Homo sapiens: one gene and its partners. The protein of the gene in region 3 interacts with the protein of the main gene of each other region in a pairwise test. Each region holds a gene or a part of one and is shown on either strand. Other genes may lie near its edges.

Region 1 (4,709 bases), on a different chromosome or scaffold from region 3:
GAAAGGTTAATCATAGCAAAAAGGTTTCAATTTTTATTAGAAAAACAGTCGATTTTAGAATGCAGTGACAATTTCATAAACTGAACATTTGATATCAGTGTAACTTTGGAAGCAGATCCCAGTTCGGGTTGATGAGCGTACTCTTGCAATTCCCATAAGCTCTTACGGTTCATTTTATTTCTTGCAATGAGAAACCTACATGATAGATTGTTCTTCATGCTTCCTGAACTGAGCCATTGCCCTTAAGTTTCTCAGGGCAAACAATTTTCATACAAGCACATGTTATTTTGTTTGGGGAAAACTGAGAAAACGGAATTCAATAACTGATTCCCTTAATTTATTTTAATAATTTTTTTAAAAAATGGAATAATTTAACAAAACTAATTTATCTCTCCCCCCCAACTTAGTGGGAAATAACCATTTAACAAAATTAAATTCATTTCTACATTTTGAAGCTGATAATGAGGGTACTGGAAAAACAAGCAAATATAAGTGTTTGTGTCAGCTACATAAATTATTAACAGATTAAAACTTCAGTGGAAAGTACAATTAGTCATCACCAAGGATAAAAATACTGGGGATTTAGAATGAGCTTTTCTTTCCTTTGATATGTTGAAGAAATATTGACTAAAAGGAAAATCACAATAGTTTCTGTTTAAATCTATGTACACTTATTGAAAATAAAATTTTATTTGCCAATTTCAGCTGAAGGTATATTTGTCAGATATTGAGATAGATTTAAATTAAAGATATCTTTCTCGTGTAACAATTGCATTAGGTGTTCCATAAATTATCTTCAAAGATATTTTATTTCATAGACATCTTGATCTAGCACAAACTAAAACAATATTGAAAATGATTATGATCCTGGTATGCTATTAATACGTATATCTCTCATTGCTTATAGCACATTTTAGTATTTCAATATTTCTAAAATATAAAATTGAAGTGATTTCGGAACTCCTGAAATTTAAAATTGTATTAGATAAAAATGTCATCCTATATAGTGAGATCATTTGTATTTTGTTAGGTAGTTTATAATTACTTTGCATTTATGGTTGAGAGAAAATTCAGTACATAAATCCAGGGTAAAGTCAGGACCAAAATTCTGTATCCCTGCATCTAATACTTAGACTGTATGTGTATGTGCTAATTCTAATTACCGTGTTAAATTCTAATAGAATTTTAAGCACCAGAAAGTATTGAAAAACAGCTTAAATATTTATAAACCTTACAATTTTATTCATAGTAACGATTTAAAACTATAATACGTAAGCTTCTCTAGCATATATTTTATGCACTTTCCCTCCACAAATGCACATGGACACACACATATGCAAACTCTAGCAGCTTCATGTTTTGGAAGCAAATATTTATGGACTTTAGGCTTCCTTTATGTAAGTTTATTGACAATTGAAAATAACCAAATTTAATAGAAAAACACACCATTATATTTTATATGTGTTAAACATTTTTGTAACTTTGAACCTGCTACGCTTTCCAGCATTATTAGCAAAGCCAACATCTGCCACGTCTTCAAAGGGACTCTTAAAAATCAAAACTTTACAACTGCTGAAAAAAATCACTACAAAGCAGGTGATTCTGAAAAATGTCTATAAATAGTGTGAATTGCTTGGCTTCAATTACATTTGGTTGCTCTTTGAGCAATCTAGTAGTAGGAATAAACTGCCCAGTTTTAGTTAAAATAACTAAAATTAATTCATTGATCGAACTTTAGCTTTTGTGCATGGTTATACAGTGTACATATCTAGATATTTTCTATTCAAATTTATGATACATATTTTATAAAAAATAGAAATTACATCAAAAAAGAAAAGAGCGATTTGGGGAGGTAGACTTTACTAGGTTTTGAATCATATTAGATTCTTGTAAAATTACAAATATTTTATTTATAGCTACTATGTCATAAAACCTTTGCTGTCAAATTATGTCTGTCTATATGCTTGACTATGCAGAATGACTAGCAAATATTACATTTAATAAGTTGGAACTTAAACTCAGAGTAATACCTTATCAACCTCATTCAGTATGATATTGTAATATTTCCAAGATATTTCAATCATTGTGTTTTCTGAAAGGAATAAATTAGTGTTATTATTCATTTCTGTGTTACTGGATTGTGGCTTTTCAGCATTTGCTTTAGAATTTAAAAAATAATATACTGGATCTTGAAGATTAAAGTGAAGTATTGAACAAATCAAATGGAGTACAAAAAAAAACTTCCATTCTTTATCTTGGACTGGTAGACTAATTTTAGGTGTGAACATTTAAAAATGGTAATCTGACATAAAAAATTCTAAGTATCATTGACCTACATGAGGGCTCTAAAATGTGATCTAAAATAATCACACTCAAGTTAAAAGCAACAATTCCTTTAGAATTAAAATGCTTTATTGTTGAACATTAGCAATGAATGGAAGGAAGAATGCAAATAAAAGTAGGAATAGTTTCCAATTCTGTGTAAATTTCTTCATTTATAGTTCATTTTAAAAGAAAAATCATAAATGCAAGGCATGGTATTGCACAAACTTTCACCGGGCTTAGAAATCCAGAACTTAGTATTTAAAGTTTTAATCTTTGTTTATGGTAATTATCAATAGAAACCTTTACAATGACATCTTATAAGCTGATCTTTACTAATAAACTGAAAAAACAGTACTTCAGTCATTACCCCATTCTCCCTCTGTGTTTCAAAACATAGACCGTTCATTATAACTCTGGAATTTAAGTTGTAATATTTATAATAAAATCTAAACATCCTAAGAACTTAATTTTAAGCAAAAATGAAATATCAGAAAATGTCAATCCTTTCTCTTAGATTCTGAGAAATTTGGGAGGTGAATTCCATATGTAATGAAATAATTACATTTTTTTTTGCACTTAAGAAATGTAAATCTATAGATGAATTAATAGCTGAATTATGTAAAACATCACCATATATAAGCCCACTACATGTACTTAGCCTGATAATGCTGCCTTGCTTGCGAAATTTTATTCATTTAGTGTTTTTATAATGGCAGCTTGACACACACAACCTAATATGAAGGTTTTTTAGATTTTAATTTCAAATGAGAAAAACCAATATAATACAGCAATATATTTTAGTTTTGAACTGTATTCACCTCAGGAATTTATTTCTAAATTTTCAGAGCAAATCTCTTTTCCAAGCACTGCTATGAGGGCTGCAAATATCTTTGAGCGATAAATACTAAGGATGCAGAAATATTAGAAAATAAATTACAGGTAGGAATTTCTTAAATAATATCTGTTGAATTAATAGTTGTGGATTATTTATCTCACCCAAATTTTCTTTATTTTTCTCACTTTTTTTTTTGATAAATGAAACATTTTGTGCAGGAAGATATATAAGCATTTCCCCCCTTGATTGTAATAATAAAAAGAGAAGGCTTAATTCTCAACTGGCCAGTTACATTGTATTTCCTGGCTTATAGTATTGGTAAATGATTTCAGTGGTTAAAATCAAAAGCAAAAAAATAAAATAAAACACAAACTAAGGCCAAAGTCCACAGATTAAAAATTGAAGTAGATGTGATTTATTTCCTATTTAGCATATTTAAGAAACAAGACACATTTTGTAGTCACAATTTGTTTCTACATATCATGTGCTTTAGATGTTAATATGGTTTACTGACATACATGTTTTGTAAAGATTGTAAATATAATGAGGCACTAACATTTTGCCTACTTTCCTTAGGATGCTCTCATGACTATTTCTTTTACTAGCGTGTTGAACTGAACCCCCAAGTAGAAAAGGAGTAACGGTGTAAAGTAAAGTTAGTTGCAAAACTCTCTACATTACTCCTAAATCACAGTCATCAGTGAGATTCAAAATCCCATTGGAGAAAACCTCGCAGAATATTTTATGTGTTTTAATGTAGTAAAACTTAGAATGGTCAAGAACATATAGGGCTCAGCCTACAATTTGCGTTAGAGGCAGAATTAATCTAAATCTGATGCCCATTTCTCTAACAGTTCTTCCCGTTTTACTTACATTATAAAAATATTGAATTTTTTAAAGAATGTTGTACTAGATAGTATTTTATGATACAAAATAATCAATAATGTATCTATTGATCCATTTGTGCTCATCTCAGATGTTGTTTTTATGTTTCAGAATAAGTATTTTCATTTAAAATCTCTTGACATTATTTATTACCAAATTAACAGAAAGTTACATGGTAAGTGTATGATCGAATGGGTTATTAATTTTCATGGGTCATGAGTGGGTTTTTAATTTTCCTCTATATTTGAAATTTTTGATATATAATTTCCGGAATAATAAGTAGCTCATTATTCCTGAAGCTTTCATTTATAATGTTACTTTGTGTACAGAAATATAATATTTCTAAATTTATATATGTTACTCACTACTAATTGTGCACTGTATTTTTAAATATTGGTTTTCACAGTGTTATGAAAATAATTTACATTTTTTTGGTTTCTTACATCACCATATGCACAAGAATGATCAGGTAGAATCCGTACTGTATCTATACATTTTTGGAAAGGGTTTGTATGAAAGATAGAAAAACCCTTTCAAAAATAATCCCTTGTTTTATCAATAGAATTAGAAATTAATAAACTGGATCATTAACTTGTATGATAATATTGTTATTTTATTTTTAAAATTTCCATTTATTTAAATGTTTAATAATTCTAAAATGTTT
Region 2 (4,709 bases), on a different chromosome or scaffold from region 3:
CCCAGATCTGTTTCTTTTGAGTGAGGTATCTGCTTCCATTCGGTTCTGAGTGGTACCCTCATGCCTCCTGGCAATATCTCTAAGACTCCAAACAGCAAAACTACAGCACTTACCTCATGTTAAAAATCTCAAGCTCTCCTTTGTTAAATGACATTCAAAAAACACACTGCAATCGTGGGATCGAATGTTTTCTAAAAGAAACCGGGTTACACTTGTATTGAGTAATACATCTTTCAACTGTCCTAAAGGAAATGAGTTCTTCTGTATTTAAACCTAGATGACACGCCACCACCTCAAGGTTAACCAATGGAAAAATTATTAAATATGCAGCAGTTTAAAAGGATTTTCCATGCATCTGCAAGCAATGGAACATATGCTAAAATTAATTGAAAGAGATCAATTGAAACAACAGCTGGTATCCACTTTACCCATGACCCCTTTTCTAGAAAAAACAAAAACTTAAAACAAGAGCCTTAGACTTCGTTTTTTTTTTTTTTTTTTGGAGATAGCGTGTCGCCCAGGCTAGAGTGCAGTGGCACAATCTCAGCTCACTGTAGCCTGTCTCCCTGGTTCTAGTGATTCTCATGCCTCAGCCTCCAAGCAGCTGGGACTATAGGCGCACGCCACCATGCCCGCTAATTTTTTTTTTTTTTTTTTTTGAGACAGTCTCACTCTGTTGCCCAGGCTGGAGTGCAGTGCAAGCTGCGCCACCCCGGGTTCACGCCATTCTCCTGCCTCAGCCTCCCGAGTAGCTGGGGCTACAGGTGACCGCCACCACGCCCGACTAATTTTTTTGTATTTTTAGTAGAGACGGGGTTTCACCGTGTTTGCCAGGATGGTCTTGATCTCCTAACCTCGTGATGCACCCACCTCAGCCTCCCAAAGTGCTGGGATTACAGGTGTGAGCCACCGCGCCCGGCCTAATTTTTGTATTTTCTGTAGAGACAGGGCTTCACCATGTTGGCCAGGCTGGTCTCAAACTCCTGACCTCAGGTGACCCGCCCGCCTCCACCTCCCAGAGTGCTGGGAATACAGGCGTGAGTCAGCCAGCCTCCCAAAGTGCTGGGATTACAAACCATGAGCCTTAGACTTTGAAAAAAAAAATTTTAAGGCAAATTAAACATTTCCACCTTTAAAATCAGAAGATTATCACTTTATAAAACTGTTGTGAAATTAAATGGGAAAAGTACATAAAAATGCTTCCCAAGGTGACAGTAAACGTCAAACTATATTACAATATTTCATCTAAGTGTGTAATTTAAAAAATCTCGTCTTCCCGGCCGGGTGTGGTGGCTCATGCCTGTAATCCCAGCACTTTGGGAGGCCGAGGTAGGTGGATCACGAGGTCAGAAGATTGAGACCATCCTGGCTAACACGGTGAAACCTCATCTCTACTAAAAATACAAAAAGTTAGCCGGGCGTGGTGGTGGGCGCCTGTAGTCCCAGCTACTCGGGAGGCTGAGGCAGAATGGCGTGAATCTGGGAGGCAGAGCTTGCAGTGAGCTGAGATCGCGCCACTGCACTCCAGCCTGGGCGACAGAGCAGACTCTGTCTCAAAAAAAAAAAAAAAAATACCAAAAAGTACCGTTAAGTTTTCCATTGCGGTCCAGACGCGTTTTGGTCATCATTTATTAATACACACACACACACACACACACACAGACACACACACACACACACACACAGCCAGATGATGAAAAGAGAAAACCAAGATCAAAATGCAACAGGGTACCAAAAAATGAAAGTAACAGGTAGTTGTAATTCACTCAGCAAGTGTTTTTGAGAATCTACATGCCACAGCTCCAAATAATGTTGGTAGAAATACATTCTATGTAAGTTGTAAAAATTTAATCTGTTAATGATAGCTTTGTTTGAAGTTGTGCCATATTGTTTGCCCTTCCTCAATAAATAGATCAAGTTCCAAACATCTGAAGTCTTTTTCTACATGGCCAGCAAACGATGAAAAACAAAAACATGCCTGCAGGTGGATCACTTGAGGTCAGGAGTTCGAGATCAGCCTGGCTAACATGGTGAAACCTGGTCTCTATTAAAAATGCAAAAATTAGCCAGGCGTGGTGGTGGGCACCTGTAATCCCAGCTACTGGGGAGGCTGAGGTAGGAGAATTGCTTGAATCCAGGAGGGGGAGGTTGCAGTGAGTTGAGATTGCACCACTGTACCCCAGCCTGGGCAACAGAGCAAGACTGTCTCCAAAAAGCCATCTTCCAAATTGGTAAATAATCCCCGAGGAGGCCAGAAGAGTAAGAAAATACAGATAAAAGACCGATGTGCTGAAAAATGGTGAAGCTGGGTGTACGGGGGTTACTGTACTATTTGTCTTTATTTTGTATGTTTGAAAGTTTCCATTAGTCAAAGGGAAAAAAAAGGCAATCACTCCAAAGAAGCATAAGGGAGATGGGCCCTTGCCTCAAATAAGCTGGCATCGAGCCTACCCCTGCTTCAACCTCATTTTCCTTCCTAGAGGACAAAGGGCAATGGGTGCCTTTTGAATTCTGAAACATGTATACATAATACCTATTCAAACACATCTTTCAAAACTTTCAAGGTCCTGTACTAGTGAGGACCTTAAACATTATTCTTAGCTGGTTTTCCAGCAATTCCCCTCTTGGGTCTGTCTTAACGTACGAATTGTGCCTGAAAGATACCAGATACTCCTCCATGTACAACTCATTTATGGGGACATGACCATCCTAAGTGGAGGAGCTTACTGAATGCCTACTGCTTTTGCACCATCATAAAGTTGAAAAATTGTCAGGTTAAGGTCAGGCGCAGTGGCTCATGCCTGTAACCCCAGCACTTCCAGAGGCCAAGGCGGGCACATCACCTGAGGCCAGGAGTTGGAGACCAGCCTGGCCAACATGGGGAAACCCCATTTCTACTAAAAATACAAAAATTAGCCGGGCGTGGTGGTACATGCCTGTAATCCCAGCTACTTGGGAAGCTGAGGCAGGAGAATCGCTGGAACTCAGGAGGCAGAGGTGGTAGTAAGCTGAGATCGCGCCACTGCACTCCACCCTGAGCAATAGAGCAAGACTGTCTCAAAAAAAAGAAAAGAGAAAAGAAAAATCGTTAAGTTAAACCATCTGAAATCAGGGACCATCTATACCCACACATCAATATTATTTACAATGTAAATTTGGAAACAGCCTGAATACTAAGCAAAAAAATAATTAAATTATGATATATCCACAGGATTATTCAGCTACTGAAAATAATGACAGAATATCATTGAAATGATGTCAAGTGAAAAAAGCAAGGTGCAAAAGAATATAAACTGTAGAAAAAGACACGATGGAAATATCCCTGCATGTGAATCATTATGGTGATTCTTCTTGTCATTTCCCCCCGAAATTTCTAGCATCCTGAAAGGCCACCAACATTTTTGTCTTCAGTAGTCAATCCCATTGTTCACAGCCTTCCAAAGACTACAGACTCCCTTAAATAGGCATGGCATTCCAAGATCCAAGATATTCTAGAATATTCCTTCCCTACTCCCTTGTCCCCACTAGCTTTCCTCGCCTTGGAATGCCCTTTTCTGTTGTTCGTATTCTCCTCTCCTGTTCATTCTTCTCGCCTTTCTGAGTAGGGTCTTTTCAACCTAGTAGGAAAAATAACTTCCAGTCTTAACCTCTATTACACAGATACAAGACCCAATGTGAAGGTTTGAAAATAATAACATCTATTCTCTATAGTAGGGGTCCCCAACGGGTCCATGGCCTGTCACGAACCTGGCTGCAGAGCAGGAAGTCTGTCACTCCCCACTGCTCGAATTACCACCTGAGCTCCGCCTCCTGTCAGATCAGCGGTGGCATTAGATTCTCAAAGGAGTGCCAACTCTACTGTGAACTGCACACAAAAGGGATGTAGGCTGCATGGTCCTTATGAGAATCTAATGCCTGATGATCTGTCACTGTCTCCCATCACCCCCAGACGGGACCATCTAATTGTAGAACAAGCTCAGGGCTCCCACTGATCCTACATTACGGTGAGTTGTATAATTATTACATTACATACTACAATGTAGCAATAATAAAGTGCACAATAAATGCAATGTGCTTGATTCATCCCCAAACCATCCCCTTACCCCTCACCCCACCCAGTCCATGGAAAAACTGTCTTCCATGAAACGGGTCCCTGGTGCCAAAAAGGTTGGGGACCACTGCTCTTTAGCCTACCCAGGCCAGGCGGGCCCTCACATTATAACATACTGCCAATGAGTATGGGGTTATCCGCATGGCTACTCACTATGCTGCACCTCCACTGCAAAGACATGCTCACTGCTTCATGTTAGATTGCTACAAAAGCAGTCTGTATAGAAACAGTCAAAAATTCAAGCTGATTTCTACATTCTTAAAGAACTAGCACCATAGGCATTTTGTTTCCCAGATCTGGGTTTTTTAAATATGGTAGCTTTAGAGTCATATGAGTAATTCCTTTCAGACAGCTCAAGAAATGTAAATCATCTCTACGGCTTCAAAAGAAACCTGGCTTTTTAAAGCCTTCCCCTCGCTCCCTTAGCCATTCCTCACTTCCCTGCCCACGGCAGCTGCTCTTCATACTCAGCTTGCGGCAGGTTGGGGGTGGATCAGTGACTCCTCTTCAGCTACTGTCATTACGTGTTCAGCTGGCCACTGCTGTCACTGTCATACTCCCAACTCGGACACCCCTGCTCAGAGGAAAGCTGGGTACC
Region 3 (3,547 bases):
TGAAGTTACTAATTAATCTGAAGCAACATCATCACGGGTGTTTCCTTCGATGCAGCTGACTTACAGGTTTAGAAACTGGAGTGCCCCCAGGGGCACTCGTGGGGTCCATTGTGGTCCATATGAAAGCAAGTCTCAGCATTAATCCTGAAGATTAACTGCCCACTTTTTCTTTCAGGAGGATGAAGGAGAAGATGACTAAATAGAACACTGATGGATTCCAACCTTCCTTTTTTTAAATTTTCTCCAGTCCCTGGGAGCAAGTTGCAGTCTTTTTTTTTTTTTTTTTTTTTTTTCCCTCTTGTGCTCAGTCGCCCTGTTCTTGAGGTCTCTTTTCTCTACTCCATGGTTCTCAATTTATTTGGGGGGAAATACCTTGAGCAGAATACAATGGGAAAAGAGTCTCTACCCCTTTCTGTTCGAAGTTCATTTTTATCCCTTCCTGTCTGAACAAAAACTGTATGGAATCAACACCACCGAGCTCTGTGGGAAAAAAGAAAAACCTGCTCCCTTCGCTCTGCTGGAAGCTGGAGGGTGCTAGGCCCCTGTGTAGTAGTGCATAGAATTCTAGCTTTTTTCCTCCTTTCTCTGTATATTGGGCTCAGAGAGTACACTGTGTCTCTATGTGAATATGGACAGTTAGCATTTACCAACATGTATCTGTCTACTTTCTCTTGTTTAAAAAAAGAAAAAAAAACTTAAAAAAATGGGGTTATAGAAGGTCAGCAAAGGGTGGGTTTGAGATGTTTGGGTGGGTTAAGTGGGCATTTTGACAACATGGCTTCTCCTTTGGCATGTTTAATTGTGATATTTGACAGACATCCTTGCAGTTTAAGATGACACTTTTAAAATAAATTCTCTCCTAATGATGACTTGAGCCCTGCCACTCAATGGGAGAATCAGCAGAACCTGTAGGATCTTATTTGGAATTGACATTCTCTATTGTAATTTTGTTCCTGTTTATTTTTAAATTTTCTTTTTGTTTCACTGGAAAGGAAAGATGATGCTCAGTTTTAAACGTTAAAAGTGTACAAGTTGCTTTGTTACAATAAAACTAAATGTGTACACAAAGGATTTGATGCTTTTCTCTCAGCATAGGTATGCTTACTATGACCTTCCAAGTTTGACTTGTATAACATCACTGTCAAACTTTGTCACCCTAACTTCGTATTTTTTGATACGCACTTTGCAGGATGACCTCAGGGCTATGTGGATTGAGTAATGGGATTTGAATCAATGTATTAATATCTCCATAGCTGGGAAACGTGGGTTCAATTTGCCATTGGTTTCTGAAAGTATTCACATCATTTGGGATACCAGATAGCTCAATACTCTCTGAGTACATTGTGCCCTTGATTTTTATCTCCAAGTGGCAGTTTTTAAAATTGGCCTTTTACCTGGATATAAATTAATTGTGCCTGCCACCACCATCCAACAGACCTGGTGCTCTAATGCCAAGTTATACACGGGACAGTTGCTGGCATGTCTTCATTGGCTATATAAAATGTGGCCAAGAAGATAGGCTCTCAGTAAGAAGTCTGATGGTGAGCAGTAACTGTCCCTGCTTTCTGGTATAAAGCTCTCAAATGTGACCATGTGAATCTGGGTGGGATAATGGACTCAGCTCTGTCTGCTCAATGCCATTGTGCAGAGAAGCACCCTAATGCATAAGCTTTTTAATGCTGTAAAATATAGTCGCTGAAATTAAATGCCACTTTTTCAGAGGTGAATTAATGGACAGTCTGGTGAACTTCAAAAGCTTTTTGATGTATAAAACTTGATAAATGGAACTATTCCATCAATAGGCAAAAGTGTAACAACCTATCTAGATGGATAGTATGTAATTTCTGCACAGGTCTCTGTTTAGTAAATACATCACTGTATACCGATCAGGAATCTTGCTCCAATAAAGGAACATAAAGATTTTTTTTGGACTGGGGTCATTCTCCTTGTTTTATAGAGAAATGTTACTTGCTATTGGATTCAGAAATTGTTCTAGTTTTTTGTCTTCACATCGTTAGTGACTGGGGAAGCGTGGGTTAGCGCTAATGGTATGACATTGGTTTAGAAAGCTTTGAGCTGGTCGGTGTCCGAGTAAAGGACAAATTCAAATATCTTACTTGGATACAGTTTCTGAGTAAACAGTTTCTGAGAGGGTGAGTATAGCATTTTCATTCTGAAGTCTCAAAAGGACTTTTCACTAGGAAGAAAATTGAGTACAGTGGGTCCTGTTATCTGCAGCTTCAGCTACATGTGGTCAACTACAATTCAGATACTTTGAGACTACATTCACACCTATACTGTATGTTAAATGTGTGAATGTATAGTTATAGTATACAATAGTCAAAATTATCCTATACCGTTAATCTCTTACTGTGCTTAATTTGGAAATTAAGTTTTATAGGCAGGTACAGGAAAAATTGTATGGGGCTTGATACTCCTGTGGTTTCAGGCAGCCACTGGGGCATCTTAGAATGTATCTCCTTTGGATAAGTGGGGCTACTGTAGTCATTTGAATCAATATCCACAAGCCTGTGATAACTTTCTCACAAACTTAACAGTGAAACTTAGCACAACTAGTGGTTTTACATGCTGGTGAGCGTCTAGGGCTGTCAGGTTATAGGTCACAATAACGTTTATTTTCGGGAATGTAAAAAATCGGGAGCCCTTTAAGGTAGTAGTAGTTCACTCAACTATTGTGATCTCCTGAGGTGCCACTAATATCTGCAAATCTTGTAAGAGAACTAGGCTGTGAGAAAACAAAATGGCAACCTTACTGTACCAAAAACTTCCATACACAGTAGCCAGCATGCCTTGTGTCCAACTGCAAGACAAGTTCTTGGGCTGGTCTTTAGTGTGTATTGGAATGGGCTCAGCTCCTTTTCTCAAGGACATTTGAAAATAGAAAATAGAAGTTGGGCACAGTGGCGCATACCTGTAATTGCAGTACTTTGGGAGGCCCAGGCTGAAGGATCGTGTAAGTCCAGGAGCTCTAGGCCAACCTGGATGACAGGGACATCCCAACACTACCATTAAAAAACAAACAAACAAAAAAACAGGTGTGGTGGCGCTAGGCTAATCCTAGCTACTTGAGAGGCTGGGGCAGGATTGCCTTAGCCCAGGAGTTTTGAGGCTGCACTGAGCTATGAGTTTGCCACCGTGCTTCAGCCTGGGCCACAGAGCAAGAAGACCCTGTTCAAAACAAGACAAGAGTAATAATGGCTGTTTAGGAAGGGGCTGTGTTCCCAAGCTGTGCTGTATTTGGTTTATGAGGGGTATTTAATAACTGCATGAATTAGGATGGAGGGCAGTAGCTTGCAAGATGTCCTTACATCTAGTTTCAAAACCTTAAGGAATATTCTGCTTTAGACCATCTCGGTTTTTGTTTCTCCAGTGATTTCATTTTATTTGTTTTTGAGACAGAGGTATCACTCTGTCGCCTAGGCTGGAGTGCAGTGGCACGATCTCAGCTCACTGCAACCTCCACTTAGCAGGTTCAAGCCATTCTTCTGCCTCAGCCTCCTGAATAGCTGGGATTACAGGCACGTAT
Region 4 (4,709 bases), on a different chromosome or scaffold from region 3:
GTGAGGTCCTGCTTGGCAGGCTCCTCTGGTGTGGATGATGCTGGGGTAGCAGGAGGGTTCAGACTGCCATGGGTGTTGGTCACTGGTGGTCTCAAGTCCCCATGGTCACTTCCATTGGTCAGCGCAGCTGTGCTAATGCTGGCTGGGGCTTGCTCTAGTGATGGTACTTCCTCAAATGGACTGGGTTTGTACAGGAGTTCAGGGTGGTGAGGTGGGGAAGGGGACATCTGAGGACACATTTGGGTTTGGGCAGGAGCTTTGCTACAGCCACTCTTAGGAAAGATCAGGATGGGTTTCTTTCTTGATGCTTTGCTATTTCTAGGGGGTTGATATCTAGGAATAGGAAGTTTCAGGTTTTCAGGTAGGGACATTCTGGGTTTCTGAATTGGCTGAGCTGAGGCAACATGTGGCAGAGCAACAAGAGAAAATGTCCCCTCCTGGCCAGCAACCTGCATCAGGGCATAGTTCTGGGTGGACATCCCCAGCAGCTTGGAGTTGATGGAGGGTCCCAGATTCACCTGATCAGAGCGTGATGGTGAATGACATGGCAGCATTCTGGACGTTAGGACTTTGGGCACAATTTTTGGTGCAATGGTCCTAAACTGACTCTTATTCTGCAAACCTTTCCTACTCTGTATTGTTCCAGAAGGGATGTTTGATTCACCTGCAATGACAATAAAATATAAAGAGTTACTGTATGTAACTGTTCTGTTAGTGATACTTCAAACAACAAGCATCTTATTTACTCTGCCCAGAACAGATTCCTTGACCTACCTCCAAGCCTTCTGGGCAAAATCTTGTGTCCCTCAAGACCAGCTTGAAGATCAATTCCTGCCTACCTTCCCCAAGGATTTCTATACTTATCTATGGTTCCTTAGCTCCTATTATGTTATTTACCATTTTCCATAATAATTTATGTGTTTATGTGTATCTCTACTAGTCAACACTGCTTGACAGCGAAAATTCCGTCCTTCTCATCCATGTATTCTGCAAGTCCATCCTCTCCATTTAACCTATCCCCACTCATCTTCACATGATGTCTGGTATGTTCTGCTATGTAGTTTATTATTTTATATACATGTTCTGCTTTCCCTATTAAGCTTCAGCTTTGTGAGGGTACAGCCTATATTCATCTCATCTTGATATTTCCCACTGTATCCTTTGTATAAAACAAGCGCTTCTTGTATCAAACTCATTTTTCACTCAATCTCAGGATACACCATTTGACCCACTGGCAGTTGAATTTGTTTTGCACAGTGGATGCATTCCAGACTGAATGCTAGCTTTGTTGCTGTTTCCCCATGTGACTTACGAATTTCTTCTCACACCTTTCAAACTGTTTATGTGTGCTTTTGCAATTAAATCACCAGTATTAAAAAAGCTGATGTGACACCTTTAAAAAATGTTGAACAAAAAACAGAAAGATACAAAGTGATAAGTACAGATACAGAGACAACATGCAAAATATGTGAATGGCATAAAAAGCACCTTCTAGGATACTAATAGGAACAATTTTGACTGATAGGGTAACACTTCATTCTTTCTGGATTTATTAGCCTGACCTAAGATCAATTACTACTACCTTAAGAGAACAATTAAGGAAACATTTTGGTGTCCTGCTTCTAAAGACTGAATTATCTATTTTATTCTCTGAGGTCTCAAGGTCACAAGACCTGGCTGCAGAAATGTTTCTAATTTCTAAGTATCTCATATTAATCAAACTTCAATTCACATTTACTAGGCACCTACATTATTCCAATCATTATCCCAGGATTGGCTATTGCCAAGTCCACAATCCCTTTTCTGAAATTTTTGGAGGAAGATGTGGTTTGGAATTTATATTTTCAAATTTTGGAAAAGTAGTAAGATGCGTGTACTAAATGTTACATAACTCCCAGCGGAATCTGCAGGGCACCCATAATTGAACCTATTACCACTTCTGTAGCAAAACATGCAAATATTCGCAAGTTGGACAAATGAAGATTTTTAAATTGTCTTTATTTCAGTTCAAGTTTTTGCTTCTGAATGAGTTTGTAACAACTTTTCATAAACTTCTGTTTTCAGAGTTTTTTAGATTTTAGAGTTGGGGGTAGGGGACTGAACACTATCTGTTAGAGGATACAAGGTAGGTAGCAGACAATCTAGTGAAACAGACAATTGAAAATGTAAAATCAGCTGGGCACGGGGGCTCACGTCTATAATCCTAGCACTTTGGGAGGCTGAGATGGGCGGATCACTTGAGGTCAGGAGCTTGAAACCAACCTGGCCACGTGATGAAACTCTGTCTCTACTAAAAATACAAAAAAAAAATTAGCCAGGCATGGTGGCAGATGCCTGTAATCTCAGCTACTGGCGAGGCTGAGGCAGGAGAATCACTTGAACCCTGGAGGCAGAGGTTGTAGTGAGCCGAGATCGCACCACTATACTCCAGCCTGGGCAACAGTCTGAGCGAGACTCCGTCTCAAAAAAAAAAGAAAAGAAAATGTAACATCAACCTTGATTTTCTTTTTTCTTTTTTTTTTTTGAGACGGAGTTTTGCTCTTATTGCTTAGGTGAGTGCAATGGTGCGATCTCGGCTCACAGCAACCTCTGCCTCCTGGGTTCAAGTGATTCTCCTGCCTCAACCTCCCAAGTAACTGGGATTACAGGCATGTGCCACCACACCCAGCTAATTTTGTATTTTTAGTAGAGACAGGGTTTCTCCATGTTGGTCAGGCTGGTCTCGAACTCCCGACCTCAGGTGATCTGCCCGCCTCGGCCTCCCAAAGTGCTGGGATTACAGGCATGAGCCACCGCGCCCGGCCCGTCAACCTTGATTTTAATGCCTACAGTGAGTGAATTAACAATTTTAGCAGGAAGTTGATTCTTTCAGCAGAAATGACACCGCCTAAATAAACAAGCAACCTAGTAGAAATAAGGTGAAATTTATATTGACCAGTTTATTTTTAGAAAGTAATTGTTTTGCAAAGAAAAAGGACATTATGAAACATAAGTTCACAGGATAGCCTGCACGAGAGTAAGAAGTACAAGGACTAGTGAGTGCTATTGTCTGGAAAAATCAGACAAAGATAATTATGTTATTTGTTGTTTTCCTTCTGAGTTTGGTTACCGTGAATTCCGCTTATGGGTAAATTGAGTGGTAAATCACTTGACAATAGTCATCTGTATGGATTGCTACTTCTTCCTACATAATTTTAATTTTTAAGTTTTATTTTCATAGCCTTTAAATTTAAATGTTTTTCATTTTAAACCTCACCTTCTCATCTTTTTTTTTTTGGAAGAAGTACCAAAATAAGTCATAAATAAACACTTTAAATCAGGATTGAGAGACTTTGCAGAAAGCCTAAAATTATTGATGGCTTTTGGTTACTTAGAGATGTGGCTTAATAAATAATTACATTAACAGTAATAATGTTCTTTGCATTTACACAACAGATCTGGGGTGTGGAAGGAAGAGAAGAGAAAATATTGGGTCATTTATCACTAGTTCTTCCTCCTAACTGGGCAGAAAATATTTACCGCAAGATGAGCTAGAACAAAGGCTTAGTAATTCACCCTCTTGAAAGAATATGTGACAATAACACATCATAGCACAAGATCTATGACTTCCTCATCTCAAATCTGTCCAATGGCTCTTCATCTCAGAGTAAAGCCAAAATCCCTGCAATGGCTTAAAAGGCCTCATGCTTAAAAAGGTTCTCAGGAGCCTCTTTGACATATTTCCTCTACTTGCTCCACTCCAGCCATGGTGGCCTCTTTGCTGTTCTGGGCATGCACCTCCTGAGAGGAGGCTCCTGGCTGGGAGGAGCATTGGCTACTCCCGCCCACCCAAGACACTCTTCCCTCAGTAAATCCCCAGTACTTGCTGCATCGTTTCCTTCAAGGTTTTGCACAAATGGCTTCTTCTCAACGAGCATCTCCTCTGATGACCTTATTTAAAACTATATCCCATTGTGAACTCCCTGCTCCCTCTTCCTGTTTCATTTTCTCTAGAACATATGCTCCATTTATGGCCAGGCATGGTGGCATATGCCTGTAATCCCAGCACTTTGGGAGGCTAAGGCAGGCAGATCACTTGAGGTCAGGAGTTTGAGACCAGCCTGGTCAACATGGTGAAACCGTTTCTACTAAAAATACAAAAATTAGCCGAGTGTGGTGGCAAGTGCCTGTAATCCCAGCTACTTGGGAGGCTGAGGCAGGGGAACTGCTTAAACCTGGGAGGTGGAGGTTGCAGTGAGCTGAGATCATGCCACTGTACTCCAGCCTGGGCAACACAGTGAGACTACATCTCCAATGAATTAATGAATGAATAAATGAATAAAGTATCACATATAGGCCGGGCACGGTGGCTCACGCCTGTAATCCCAGCACTTTGGGAGGCCGAGACAGGTGGATGACAAGGTCAGCAGATCGAGACCATCCTGGCTAACATGGTGAAACCCCGTCTCTACTAAAAATACAAAAAAATTAGCTGGGCGTGGTGGTGGGCGCCTGTAGTCCCAGCTACTCGGGAGGCTGAGGAAGGAGAATGGCGTGAACCCGGGAGTTTGCAGTGAGCCGAAATAGCGCCACTGCACTGCAGCCTGGGTGACAGAGCGAGACTCCATCTCAAAAAATAAAAATTAATAGATAAAGTATCACATATACTGCCTGGCTTCCCTAGAATTCCTAGAGGACAGGGAGTTGGTCTGTGTCTTCAGGGCCTACAG
Region 5 (4,709 bases), on a different chromosome or scaffold from region 3:
GTGTCCAGGAATTTATCCATTTCTTCTAGATTTTCTAGTTTATTTGCATAGAGGTGTTTGTAGTATTCTCTGATGGTAGTTTGTATTTCTGTGGGATCGGTGGTGATATCCCCTTTATCATTTTTTATTGCATCTATTTGATTCTTCTCTCTTTTCTTCTTTATTAGTCTTGCTAGCGGTCTATCAATTTTGTTGATCTTTTCAAAAAAACCAGCTCCTGGATTAATTGATTTTTTGAAGGGTTTCTTTGTGTCTCTATCTCCTTCAGTTCTGCTCTGATCTTAGTTATTGCTTGCCTTTTGCTAGCTTTTGAATGTGTTTGCTCTTGCTTCTCTAGTTCTTTTAATTGTGATGTTAGGGTGTCAATTTTAGATCTTTCCTGCTTTCTCTTGTGGGCATTTAGTGCTGTAAATTTCCCTCTAGACACTGCTTTAAATGTGTCCCAGAGATTCTGGTATGTTGTGCCTTTGTTGTCATTGGTTTCATAGAACATCTTTATTTCTGCCTTCATTTCGTTATGTACCCAGTAGTCATTCAGGAACAGATTGTTCAGTTTCCATGTAGTTGAGCAGTTTTGAGTGAGTTTCTCAATCCTGAGTTCTAGTTTGATTGCACTGTGGTCTGAGAGACAGTTTGTTGTGATTTCTGTTCTTTTACATTTGCTGAGGAGTGCTTTACTTCCAACTGTGTGGTCAATTTTGGAATAAGTGTGATGTGGTGCTGAGAAAAATATATATTCTGTTGATTTGGAGTGGAGAGTTCTGTAGATGTCTATTAGGTCTGCTTGGTGCAGAGCTGAATTCAATTCCTGGATATCCTTGTTAATTTTCTGTCTCATGGATCTGTCTAATGTTGACAGTAGGGTGTTAAAGTCTCCCTTTATTATTGTGTGGGAGTCTAAGTCTCTTTGTAGGTCTCTAAGGACTTGCTTTATGAATCTGGGTGCTCCTGTATTGGTTGCATATATATTTAGGATGGTTAGCTCTTCTTGTTGAATTGATCCCTTTACCATTATGTAATGGCCTTCTTTGTCTCTTTTGATCTTTGTTGGTTTAAAGTCTGTTTTATCAGAGACTAGGATTGCAACCCCTGCCTTTTTTTGTTTTCCATTTGCTTGGTAGATCTTCCTCCATCCCTTTATTTTGAGCCTATGTGTGTCGCTGCACATGAGATGGGTCTCCTGAATACAGCACACTGATGGGTCTTGACTCTTTATCCAATTTGCCAGTCTGTGTCTTTTAACCGGAGCATTTAGCCCATTTACATTTAAGGTTAATATTGTTATTTGTGAATTTGATCCTGTCATTATGATGTTTGCTGGTTATTTTACTTGTTAGTTGATGCAGTTTCTTCCTAGCATCAGTGGTCTTTACAATTTGGCATGTTTTTGCAGTGGCTGGTACCAGTTGTTCCTTTCAATGTTTAGCGCTTCCTTCAGGATCTCTTTTAGGGCAGTCCTGGTGGTGACAAAATCGCTCAGTATTTGCTTGTCTGTAAAGGATTTTATTTCTCCTTCACTTATGAAGCTTAGTTTGGCTGGATATGAAATTCTGGGTTGAAAATTCTTTTCTTTAAGAATGTTGAATATTGGCCCCCACTCTCTTCTGGCTTGTAGAGTTTCTGCTGAGAGTTCTGCTGTTAGTCTAATGGGCTTCCCTTTGTGAGTAACCCAACCTTTCTCTCTGGCTGCCCTTAACATTTTTTCCTTCATTTCAACTTTGGTGAATCTGACAATTATGTGTCTTGGAGTTGCTCTTCTCAAGGAGTATCTTTGTGGCATTCTCTGTATTTCCTAAATTTGAATGTTGGCCTGCCTTGCTAGGCTGGGGAAGTTTTCCTGGATAATATCCGGAAGAGTGTTTTCCAACTTGGTTCCATTCTCCCCGTCACTTTCAGGTACACCAGTCAGACGTAGATTTGGTCTTTTCACATAGTCCCATATTTCTTGGAGGCTTTATTCATTTCTTTATACTCTTTTTTTCTCTAAACTTCTCTTCTTGCTTCATTTCATTCATTTGATCTTCAATCACTGATACCCTTTCTTCCAGTTGATCAAATCAGCTACTGAAGCTTGTGCATGCATCACATAGTTCTCATGCCATGGTTTTCAGCTCCATCAGGTCATTTAAGGTCTTCTCTATGCTGTTTATTCTAGTTAGCCATTTGTCTAATCTGTTTTCAAGGGTTTTAGCTTCTTTGCGATGGGTTTGAACATCCTCCTTTAGCTCGGAGAAGTTTGTTATTACAGATCGTCTAAAACCTTCTTCTCTCCACTCATCAAAGTCATTCTCCATTCAGCTTTGTTCCGTGGCTGGCAAGGAGCTGCATTCCTTTTGAGGGGAAGAGGTGCTCTAATTTTTAGAATTTTCAGCTTTCTGCTCTGGTTTCTCCCCATCTTTGTGGTTTTATCTGCCTTTGGTGTTTGACGATGGTGACGTACAGATGGGGTTTTGGTGTGGATGTCCTTTCTCTTTGTTAGTTTTCCTTCTTACAGTCAGGACTCTCAGCTGCAAGTCTGTTGGAGTATGCTGGAGGTCCACTCCAGACCCTGTTTGCCTGGGTATCACCAGTGGAGGCTGCAGAACAGCAAATATTGCAGAATGGCAAATGTTGCTGTCTGATCGTTCCTCTGGAAGCTTCATCTCAGAGGGGCACTCGGCCATATGAGGTGTCAGTCGGTCCCTACTGGGAGGTGTCTCCCAGTTAGGCTACTCAGGGGTCAGGGACCCACTTGAGGCGATAGTCTGTCCATTCTCAGATCTCAAACCCTGGGCTGGGGGAACGACTATTCTCTTCAAAGCTGTCAGACAGGGACGTTTAAGTCTGCAGAAATTTCTGCTGCCTTTTGTTCAGCTATGCCCTCCGCCAGAGGTGGAGTCTACAGAGGCAGTCAGGCCTCCTTGAGCCGCAGGGTGCTCCACCGGCTTCAAGCTTCCTAGCCGCTTTGTTTACCTACTCAAGCCTCAGCAATGGCGGGCACCCGTCCCCCCAGCCTGGCTGCTGCCTTGCAGTTCAACCTCAGACTGCTGTGCTAGCAAGAGCGAGGCTCCGTGGGCGTGGGACCCTCTGAGCCAGGCGCCGGATATAATCTCCTGGTGTGCCATTTGCTAAGACTGTTGGAAAAGCACAGTATTAGGGTGGGAGTGACCCAATTTTCCAGGTGCTGTGTGTCAAGGCTTCCCTTGGCTAGGAAAGGGAATTCCCTGACCCCTTGCACTTCCCAGGTGAGGCGATGCCTTGCAGTGCTTCAGTTCACACTCCGTGGGCTGCACCCACTGTCCTGTACCAACTCTCCAACAAGCCCCACTGAGATGAACCTGGTACCTCAGTTGGAAATGCAGAAATCACCCGTCTTCTGCATCGTTCATGCTGGGTGCTATAGACTGGAGCTGTTCCTATTTGGTCATCTTGGAACCTCTCTTATTCTTTTAATGCCTGTAGCATCTGTAGTGAGAACCTTTCTTTCCTGATTTTTGTAATTTGTATGTTTAATCAAACTAGCTAGAGGTGTGTCAGTTTTATTGTTCATTTAACAAACTCAGCTTTTGGCTTCATTGATTTTATTTTTCTCAATTTTATGTTTTATATTTCATTGGTGTCTATTTTTAAATTATTTCCTTTCTTGTATTTACTTTTAAAAACATAGAGATATATAATTCACTTAACATAAAATTTCTTATCACATGAAATTCACCCTTTTAAAGTATACAGTGCAGTGGTTTTAGTATATTCACAAAGCTTTGAATCTTCACCCTGTTCATTTCTAAAATATTTCAATCTCTAAAAGGGAATCTCATATCTATAAGCAGTCTCCATTCTCCACCCCCCTAGCCCCTAACAACTGCTAATCTACTTTCTGTCTAAATGGATTTGGCCATTTTGGATATTTCATATGAATGGAATCATAAAATATGTGGCCTTTTGTGTCTGGCTTTTTTCACTTAGCATATTGTTTTCAAGGTTCATTCATGTTGTAGCACATATGAGCATTTCATTACTTTTTATGGAGAGACAATAATTCTGTTGTGTGGATATACCATGTTTTGTTTATCCATTCATCAATCAATGGACATTTGTATTGTTTCCACTTTTTGGCTATTATGAATAATGCTGCAATAAACATTCATGTACAAATTTTTGTGTGGACATACATTTTCAGTTCTCTTGAATATATGCCTAGCAGTGGAATTGCTGGGTCATCTGGTAACTCCGTGTTTAACTTTTGGAGAAACTGCCAAATTGTTTTTCCAAGCTTCTGCACCATTTTACATTCCCGCCAGCACAGTATTTTGACACTGATTTCTCCATCTCCTCACCAACACTTGTTAATAATTATCTATTCTTGTGAGTATAGCCATCTAGGAGTATGAAGTAGTATTGCATCATGGTTTTTATTTGTAGTTCCCTATTAATTAATGATGTCAAGTATATTTTTATGTACTTATTGGCCATTTGCGTATCAAGATCATTCTCTTTTGATTATCTTTTCCATGTGAGTTTAAATCATGTTTTTCTATTGCTTCATATATTGGATAATATTAGATTGCACCTGGGTATTGTGTATCCCTTGTTGGAGAAAATGTAGATTCAGTTATGCTCACCCAAAGAGTTTTGATGTTTCAATTTTAATAGGCACTAACCTTGTCTGAACCCAAAATAAGCAACATCTGAAATCTCATTTTAGTTGTTTTATCCTTAGATAGCTGCTT
Region 6 (4,709 bases), on a different chromosome or scaffold from region 3:
GGGCAGTTTTTGCTCAGGAAGTCTAATGTGAATTCACCTACTATTTTCCAGAATGAGGGGCACTCTTCTGAAGAATTATCCAAAAAAATTATCACTCCTAATTTGTATTGGTTCAGGGTAGTATAAACGCTAAAATATTTAAAACAGAATTCAATAATGCTTCTTCTACAATAAAGGGAAAAATGATCTTAAAATTGTAACTTTTTATAAAGCTGCAAATAAGATAATTTTTAAGGAATATAACAGTATTTTTGTAACAGATATGGAGTTCAATATGCTCATGTCAAAATATTTCATAATACTAAAATTAACTTAGACATTCAAACATAAAAATTATGACAATAATATGGTGTTTAAAAGCTCAAATGAAGCTTATAGAAATAAAGCTTATTTGTAGAGTTCCATTTCATATAAAAGTTTATGCTTTCAGAATTTAGAACAGTAAAAAGTGGTTTTTCAAATAATAAGAATACATTGCTTTCCTGGAAAAATACTTCCAAATGATTATTAAAAAGATGACAATGAAAGAAAAAAGAATGAATATTGTATCAACATTAAAAAAGCATCTGTGCTATAAATTGCCAGATAAAATAATATTAACAACATATTCCTATTTACCTTTACACTTATAATTATGTACCAATATAAAGCTGACCTTACATAAAAATTTAGAAGCACCAGGTTTGATCAGCGTGAGATAAAGTTACAGCTAGATTTATGCCCTATGTGGCAATTTATTTTTATTTTCTCTTTTAGAGTTATTATATTATTATATTAAAGCCTATAAAATTTGTAGTCAGCATAGCAAGCTTCAAATCATTTTAGTTAATTAGCAACTATGGTGAAGCATGAAGCATCACTCTTTCCCAGTAGTTTCATTTTAAACAAATCATCCTCACGTATAAAAATAGCAAATTGCATTAAATTTTATATAAGACATTTTACAGCTTCTTATATAGGAAAAGCTATAAGCAGCTTCCATGGCACATACCACAGCAAACAGCTTTGAATAAACTCTGGCAAGATATCATTCATAGAGATACAAGATACATACAGCCTATATAGACTTAATGCTTAAAGTACGTCACAAAAAGTTGCAGGTTCAAAGAAAGAACAACAAAAAAATTGCCCAGAAGTTGAGTTCCAGTTACATTCTGACATCCTTTATTGCCTTCAAGTTGAAAAAGAAAGTATTTTGGTATTTCTCCTAGTTCTATTTAATGCTTGCTGCAAAACATTAAATAAAAGCATGTAGAATTCCTAATTCTAAGACTCTGATTATGCACTGGCTGGCTACTTTATTCATATTTTTTCAAACTGAAATAAGGCGGATAGATCGCAGTGATGAGTACCTTAAACATTATCACTACAACTTTGCTATTTTTACACAGTCATTTTTAATCTACTTTAGACAATATCAATTTTAAGCTCCAACTTAAAGTACAAAGATGTTTCTATATCTAATTTGTCATAAGTTACTCTTCAAAAAAATAAAAATAATTATAAATGCATTGGATAGATTTTTAACAGATACATTTCTTGGTCTGCCTGGCATATAAATATTGACTGGGTAGATTTCATAATTTCAGTCAGAAACATGTTAGAGGAAGTTTTAAAAAGTCAGTCCTTCTCTTTCTTTAGCTAATGAGTTTCCAAAGGAGGAAAGCAATCCCACAAATGGGCAAATTCTGTCTCATCAGATATGTACATTTTATGTTCCACAGCTAAATGAATGATATGCCAGTCCAGTTCTGGAAAGTGAAAAATTCCACTGTTAAGATTTGATACTTAGTGTACAAACTATGGAAGATTTTTCTTTCTTTTTCTCTTAAATATAGCTACTAGTGCCATAAAGGAGAAAAAAAATGGAAAGACATCAAATTTTCCATAATAATAGTTTCTATAACCCTTAAGAAAATATCTTACAGTCTAAATTATTATATTTTCATATTATTTAATATCTCAAATCATCATTCAAAGAACTTATAAATCACATCATCATTATCACTACTCAAAGTAACACAAGTAAAACACAGATCTTTAAGTCTCATTGCTCATAATTAGGAGTGTTTCTTTCTTTCTGTTTATGGAGGGAGAAGTGTATTAAGAAGCTAAATGTAATTGGCAAAAATATTTTACTTTTCACTGTATGTAAAAAATTATCTGGCCCAGGACAATACTTGTAACCAACAATATATGTGGACAGGCAAATTACTATTTTATTACTTTCCTTATTCTTACTTATGTTCTTAATAATTTAGACATGAAATATAAATATGTAAGTTATTTATGTTCAGTTTGGTGCCTCAGAGAAATTACATAATATCAAAGGGCCAAAAATAAAACAACTTTTAAAATAGAACTTAAGTGATTAAACATTGGTTATATAAAATACAAAATGGAAGTATGCTGAATTTGGAGGAAAATGAGAAAAATTACTTTTAAAGCTCAGGAAAATAACCACAGAATATTACTTGTTCACTGATTATATTACAGATTCTATGTAATTAAATAAACAATTAGATAGTGGCAACTTTAGGTGTACCTTCCTTTTTCCTTTAGCTAATTTCACCCATTGCCTGAAATCATACCTCTCACACAGTAAGCATTTAATAAACATTTTTGAACAACTATTTGTATCTAATCAAAGAAATTAATTTGTAAATAAAATCTGCTTGACTATATTTGTTGATTTACCATACAGAATCAGACTATTTTAATTTGCCAATCAGAGACATATGCAGTTGAACATCTACACAATTTCACTGAGACACATGCTTTCCACATAAAACTAAATACCACATCTGCGGCATAATCTATAACACGTAACACAGTGTTTTACACACACCAATTCTCCACTTCACTTCTGCAATTTTAAGTGTTGATGAAGTTGCCAAATAAGTCACATTATATACAACAAACTTTCAGTTTAAATAAGGGACAAGATTGCTGTTAACAACTTAGTTTGAAATGTTAACAACCGTTAGGCTGTTAACATAACAACTGGCCATTAATGTGGTAATGACCAATTTAAGCGGAAATCGTACTCTGAGAAATGAATATATTGGCAATCAGGACCAGGGTTTATATTTGAAAGAATATTATATACTTTTAATAAGTTAACCACCATTAAAAGTTTGAGCCTATCAGGAGGTAACTGAAAGTTATTCTACAAAAAGCCACATACACTCTTATAGAGATACAAAAACTTCTGATATGAAAACTATTTTTGATAAATGCGTTTTAGCAAAACACTTGAGACTATCAAATATATTTTTACTACCACAAGGAAAAAGAAAACAAAACAAATCTAAGATTACTGTCTTTGCTCGATGCTATGTTGACAGCTAAGAAGCATGTTATACTCACAATATAGGTATTTCCTTGGCAAATTTTTATTTTTGTTTTCAAAAACCCCAGATATTTCAGTTGACATTCTTTCAAGTTTACTTAATTTTTGTCCTTTGGTTTATTAAAACACCTTAACATTGCCCGGGCTATATAAACTCCTTATTTGAAATGGTAACATAAATCCACTTGAGATACTGAAATTACAAACAAATGTAAAAGTCAAAAGGAGTCAAAAAGCTATGACTATTGGTTAGTACAGATAAAGCAAAACTAAAAAGCAGTATTAAATCACTAAAAGCAAATACAAATGCTTTATGTGGAAATGAGGCTCTAATTCACAATGGGCAGAAGAGAAATTTTTATTTCAAAGAGGAAAGTTCAAAGACCGGAGAGTTCTAAAAAAATGAACATTGTACATTAATTTTGATTCGTTGTGCCAACACAATGAGGGAAATCCTGGCTGGAGAGAGTGACTTCTCATTGTTGGCACCTTGCATGTGTTTTACGCACTTGGAACACAGAGAAGTAGTAACAAGTGGCCATAATTAGTCAGGAGGCTGTCAGATGAGGCCGTCCTAAGAGCGAGAAGGAGTAGAATCTGATAAACAGTACCGCTTTCACCCTCTTGTAACTACCATTAATCAAATGATATATTTTTATATCTAAAGATTGGATCTGACTGAAAATAGCTGAATTATATACTAAGAACGACCAAATTCCCTAGAAAACACCTCATCAAATGACCAAGGTACTAAAGGAGTTACCATTGATTGATAAATTTTGTCATAAGGGAAAAAATTCCAAATAAATCGCTTAATGTCAGACCAGAAAAATGATAAATTGTATTAAATATGAAAATCCCAATGATGCCATATATCATTTCTCTAATTTGATAGATCCTACTTTATTAATATAAGTAATTTGCAGCTGAAGTAAGTCACAAAGTTGCCTGAAAAGCAAAATAATTTTCCTTCAGCAGAAATTCTGTGTTGAGTACTTAATGCTGGAAAACAAGCTTTAGTAGGCTTCATAGCTCCATAACCAAGAACACCTGCCTTGTCCTGAAAGCATTCAGATGTTTACAGGTTGGAGAGTGGCTGTCATTTTCCTATAATGATGGAGGTCTTTACTTTGTTATTATCCATAAAACTACTGGCAAGTCTGAGGCGGTTCAATTGCTTAGTTGTATTTTTGAGATTCCCGTTTAGAATGTCATGAGGTGGGGCGAGAGGAAGATGTATCTACACTTGGGGAAAGTTTTCAAAACTCTACAATAAATGCACTAATAGATATTAACCAAGGATTTGCACCTGACTTCCTCTGACACACCTGAAACAGAGAAGACAGCTGAATAACTT
Region 7 (4,709 bases), on a different chromosome or scaffold from region 3:
AGTCTCAGCTACTCAGGAGTCTAAAGCCTGAGAATTGCTTGAGCCAGGGAGGTCCAGGCCACAGTGAGCCACGTACGCCATTGCACCCAACCTGGGTGATAGAGTGAGACCTTGTCTCAAAAAAAAAAAAAATCCTCTGGATGGATAGATACATTGTTTCAAAGTCTTATAGGCCTGGAAGCCATTATAGTTCTTTAACTCAGTTTCTCTTACTTTCACGGGTTCATTTCCCTGTAGACAAATATGACAGCATATTTCAAAGATTTATGACATGTTTAATACATAAAAAAGAATGTATTCACTGAATACTTGAGAAACCACGAAACAACTTAAAAAAGGAACACCCCCAATCTATACCTTTGCCTTCATCCTAGAGGTAACTATTACCTGGAATTGTATTTGTCTAACATTCTCATGCTTTCCTTGATAGTTCTAAAACTTGTTTCTTTTTATTCTCCCAATTGGATATTTCAGTTGTTTTCAGGTTTTTATTGTTACAGGCATACTGCTAGTACAAACTTTCTTGTCCGCAGCTATTCATGTGCATGAGTTTCTTTGGAGTGTTCAGGAGTGGACTTTTTACATTGATGTGCTACAGAAGGTTCTGGGACAAATTGGACTTTAGGATTGATGTGTACCACCTACAGGGGATATGTATTGAGTATTTGAAAGACTTCGGAAATAACTGTGATTGTTCCTTTACAAATGGATTTTAACTGCATGCTTTCATATGGCCTTGTTACTAGGTAATCAAATGTTCTGTGTTACTTCCCTGTATATTCTGGATTCAGATCTTTCTGAGTTTTATTTGTGGCTAGTATCTCCTAGTTGGTGATTATTTTTCACTCTTTGTGGTGTTTTGGTGAGCAGACATTATAAATTTTAATGCAGTTGAATTTATCATTTCTCATTATTTTTACAGACTCTTCCCTATCCTCATCTTAAAGATTTTCTTCCTAATCTAAAAGTTTTAAAGTTTTGTCTTTAATCCACTTTAATTTGATTTCTCTTCTATGGTAGGGACCAAATTTTATTTTTTCCACATAGGTTACTAATTGTCCCCGCACTGTTTATTGGAGCCTTTCCCCGCACTGATATGCAGTACCATATCTGACACATCAATTCTCTATATATGTTTGAGTCTGTTTCTGATGTCTCTAATCTAAATTAGTGTCACATTGTCATCTTTACTGTAGAAATGCTGTAGCTCTATAATAACTTAATATTTGTAGAGAAAGTGCCTAACTTTGTTTTCCCGCTTGGATCTTTTTTTTTTTTTTTTTTTTTTTTCAATTTGGCTGTTTGCCCTTTTAAAATATTTAGAATCAGCTTGTCAAATCTGATGAAGAATCCTTTTGTGGTTTATATTTGAATTGCGCTGAATGTGTGTGTTAGTTTAGGGGATAATTTATCATCTTATTCGTGAATATGATATATACCTCTGTTTAGCTCTTCTTCTGTATCTTTACATAAAACTTTGTATTTTCTTTGTGAAAAGATAATACATATTTTATAGGATTATTTCTTTGTACCATTTTTGTTGTTCTATTATAAATGGAATCCTTTTAAAATTTTAATTGTGACCAGCTTTGAAGAAGCATCTCTTATGACTTTTTCAGCTGATAAATTTTCCTGAAGATTATAGCAAAAGTACCAAATTTTGAGGGTATTAAAAAGCAGAAATTAATTGGGGTGTATCTTATCACATCTGTTTTTAGTAAGTGTGAAAAGGTCAATATTGTCCATTTATTTGTCTTTTCACTTAGAGATTGTGTGAGAGAACTAATATTCATAGACCCTGTTGACTCAGGTAGTTTTCAAAGTGTGTATGTGTTTAAGTGGTGTGTGTGACTTTTTTCTGAGACAGTGGTGAGAAAATTGACATTTTTACTCTTTAGAATAGTTCTTAGAAATGTATATTTAATATACTAGTTGAGGTCATTGTGTTCTATCAGGAAAAAAAATTGTTCTCTCTGCTTCCTTTTGTGTAATGTTCTTCTGTTTTTCTTTTTTTCACTTGACCAAATATCTAGCTTATTCTGTGTTTACTTCAAGTCGCATTTCCTTTCATGCCTTCCCAGACCATTTAATCCATAGTTATTTCCTCTTGTTAATTTCTAAATTCTTACAGATTCTACTTATAAACATAGAATGGCCTCCATATTGTATCATTAAATGCAGAGACCAAGGGCACAGTACAAAGGGTCCTATTTTAAAGATCTGTGTGTGTGTGTGTGTGTGTGTCTGTGTGTGTAAAAATTTTTGGAGGAATGCACTAAAAAATTTTTTTTATGATAGTTAACTTTTAAAACTGGGTCTGAAAGGTCTAAGATGGAAGGAAGAGTTTTACTTCATGTGCTTTTATACTATTTGAAAATTTTGCTATCTGCATGTATTACTATTTATTTTCAGGGTTATAGTGTTTATTAAGTATGTAACAGTAGGAGTTGGCTCAAAATTATCTGGAAAAATAAGAAGTAAACAAGATTGCCAAAATGTTGATGATAAGTGAAGCTAGATAATAGACCCATGGTGATTCATAACATTATTCTCTCCTTTTATGTATATTAGAATTTTTCACCATAAAATTTTAAAAATTAAACATTGATATATTCTAGCTATAATTTAGGTCTGAAATGGGCTTTGCAATTCGAAACACTTGTAAATGTATCAGGACACTAAAGATTCCTATTTTTTTATTGCTATATAATTCACCTACCACAAAATCATCCTTTAAAAAAGTATGTAATTTGGTGGTTTTTATTATATTCACAAGATTGTGCAGCCATCAGCAGTATCAAATTCCATATCACTTCCCAAAAAACCCACACTGATTATCAGTCATTGCCCCTCCTTCCCTATTCCCAGCCCCTGGCAACCATTATTGTGACATGTGTAACTACTTTATTTCTCTTTGTGGTTGAATAATATTCCACTCTATGGATTTACTACATTTTGTTTATCCGTTCATTAGTTGATGAATATTTGGGTTGTTTGTACTTTTTTGACTATGTATTCATTACTTGTTAAAGTTTAAATATGTAAGAAAAGACCTATGGTTTTTGTTTGTGTTTTAGGTGGGGGGAAATGATTCTATTTTTATTCTCAAAACCGTTTTTGAAAAACTTTACTGCTAATAAATTATGAGGTTTTGGAACATACACTGTACAGTTTCATTAAAAGTAAAATTCTTGTGTCATTTAAGTAGAAATTGTTTGTATTTTAGATAACATTTGGTCAGCCAGGCTTGGACATTCAGAGCAGAAGTATGGAATACGTACAGCGGCAAATATCCAAGGAATGTGGAAGCCTAAAGTCCCAAAATAGGGTAAGTAATGTTAGTTTATCTTGTGATATGGAATTTAACTAATTAATAGATAGGTAAAGTTTTCCAGTCTTTCTAATTCTCCATATAGTTGAATTGTACTAGAAAATTTTTCATTGTATAAATTTGCTGCCTATGTGCTTAAACGCTGTTAGTTAAAAACTCTGCAAACTTCTCATTTGAGTCTAAAAGATTGCCAGAGCTGCATTTATTAGATAGGACCAAAAGGAATTATATATTGTTAATTAAATAAACTGTATCTGTCACCCCACCTTTAGCTCAGACCTAGAATTTTCTTAGCCCTAATTCCATGTATCTAGGAAATAGAAGTTTGCCCCAAACTGAGTCAGATGCTTACTTGTAGTAGACTAGTCACTGTGTCCAGGGACTGGAGCTAAAGATACAAATTTGTCTACTTAGAAGCCTGCATTTATGGATGATGTAAGGGGTCAAAAGACTTAATTTTGTTCTTTGGCCTCAAAGAACCAACCTTCCCAGAAGGGTTGTGGAAGTAGGGGTATTTTACGTCATTGTTCAGAGACTTTTTGTGTACCCAAGCTACACACATGTGTGTCTTTGTATTAATTTGCTAGGACTCCCACAACAAAATATTACAGACTGGGTAGCTTCAACAACAGAAATTTATTTTCTCACAATTCTTAGAAGTTCAAGATCAAGGTTGTTGGTAGGTTTGGTTTCTTCTGAGGCCTTTCTTCTTGGCTTGCAGGTAGCTGCCCTCACATGGTCTTTCCTCACTTTGCCCTCACATGCTCTTTCCTCTGCCCGTACATCCCTGGTGTCTTTCTCTGTGTGTCCAAATTTCCTCATAAAGAAAACAGTCAGATTGGATTAAAGTCTCTCTTAAGGGCCACATTTTAACTTAGTCACCTCTTAAAAGGCTCTATATCCAAATACAGTCGCATTACTGGAGGTTAGGGCTTCAGCATATGAATTTGAAGAGGACATAAGTCAGACCATAACATTTTGTCCTTTGTTCCCAAAATCATGCCCTTCTCACTTGCAAAATACATTCATCCTTATCCTAACAGCCCCAAAGACATAACCCATTCCAGCATCAACTCTTAAGTCCCAAATCTCATCTAAATAACGTCTTTCAATCAAGTGTGGGTAAGTGGCTCATGCAATAGTAGAGGTACAGATCCAAAACAGGGTAGGCTGTCTGGAGACCCAAGAAATAGTTGTAGTCTGAGTCCAAAGGCACCCTGCTGGCAGAATTTCTTCTTGCTCAGGGGGAGCTCAGTCTTAGTTCTAGTAAAGCCTTCAACTGATTTTATGAGGTCCGCCTATACCACAGAAGGTACTGTGCTTTCCTCATAGTCCACCAACTGAAATGTTGATCTCATCCCAAAAACATATCATAGAA

What was found.
Region 1: the proteins of SET (region 3) and MEOX2 interact in binary tests that used the Homo sapiens proteins (3 or more experiments, as listed by UniProt).
Region 2: the proteins of SET (region 3) and YWHAG interact in binary tests that used the Homo sapiens proteins (3 or more experiments, as listed by UniProt).
Region 4: the proteins of SET (region 3) and ZNF438 interact in binary tests that used the Homo sapiens proteins (3 or more experiments, as listed by UniProt).
Region 5: the proteins of SET (region 3) and SGO2 interact in binary tests that used the Homo sapiens proteins (3 or more experiments, as listed by UniProt).
Region 6: the proteins of SET (region 3) and LMO3 interact in binary tests that used the Homo sapiens proteins (3 or more experiments, as listed by UniProt).
Region 7: the proteins of SET (region 3) and SPRED1 interact in binary tests that used the Homo sapiens proteins (3 or more experiments, as listed by UniProt).

Annotation. Positions count from the first base shown.
Region 1 is NC_000007.14:15,679,666-15,684,374, reverse strand, and holds part of MEOX2 (homeobox protein MOX-2), read left to right. Parts: intron 1-2,394; exon of another isoform or gene 2,395-4,709. UniProt on the Homo sapiens protein: Mesodermal transcription factor that plays a key role in somitogenesis and somitogenesis and limb muscle differentiation. Required during limb development for normal appendicular muscle formation and for the normal regulation of myogenic genes.
Region 2 is NC_000007.14:76,347,783-76,352,491, forward strand, and holds part of YWHAG (14-3-3 protein gamma), read right to left. Parts: intron 1-4,709. UniProt on the Homo sapiens protein: Adapter protein implicated in the regulation of a large spectrum of both general and specialized signaling pathways. Binds to a large number of partners, usually by recognition of a phosphoserine or phosphothreonine motif.
Region 3 is NC_000009.12:128,694,466-128,698,012, forward strand, and holds the end of SET (protein SET), read left to right. Parts: intron 1-175; coding exon 176-199; 3' UTR 200-1,931; downstream 1,932-3,547. UniProt on the Homo sapiens protein: Multitasking protein, involved in apoptosis, transcription, nucleosome assembly and histone chaperoning. Isoform 2 anti-apoptotic activity is mediated by inhibition of the GZMA-activated DNase, NME1.
Region 4 is NC_000010.11:30,849,704-30,854,412, forward strand, and holds part of ZNF438 (zinc finger protein 438), read right to left. Parts: intron 665-4,709; coding exon 1-664. UniProt on the Homo sapiens protein: Isoform 1 acts as a transcriptional repressor.
Region 5 is NC_000002.12:200,563,797-200,568,505, forward strand, and holds part of SGO2 (shugoshin 2), read left to right. Parts: intron 1-4,709. UniProt on the Homo sapiens protein: Cooperates with PPP2CA to protect centromeric cohesin from separase-mediated cleavage in oocytes specifically during meiosis I. Has a crucial role in protecting REC8 at centromeres from cleavage by separase.
Region 6 is NC_000012.12:16,595,423-16,600,131, forward strand, and holds part of LMO3 (LIM domain only protein 3), read right to left. Parts: intron 3,546-4,709; coding exon of another isoform or gene 3,473-3,545; exon of another isoform or gene 3,370-3,472; intron 1-3,369.
Region 7 is NC_000015.10:38,346,196-38,350,904, forward strand, and holds part of SPRED1 (sprouty-related, EVH1 domain-containing protein 1), read left to right. Parts: intron 1-3,226; coding exon 3,227-3,328; intron 3,329-4,709. UniProt on the Homo sapiens protein: Tyrosine kinase substrate that inhibits growth-factor-mediated activation of MAP kinase. Negatively regulates hematopoiesis of bone marrow.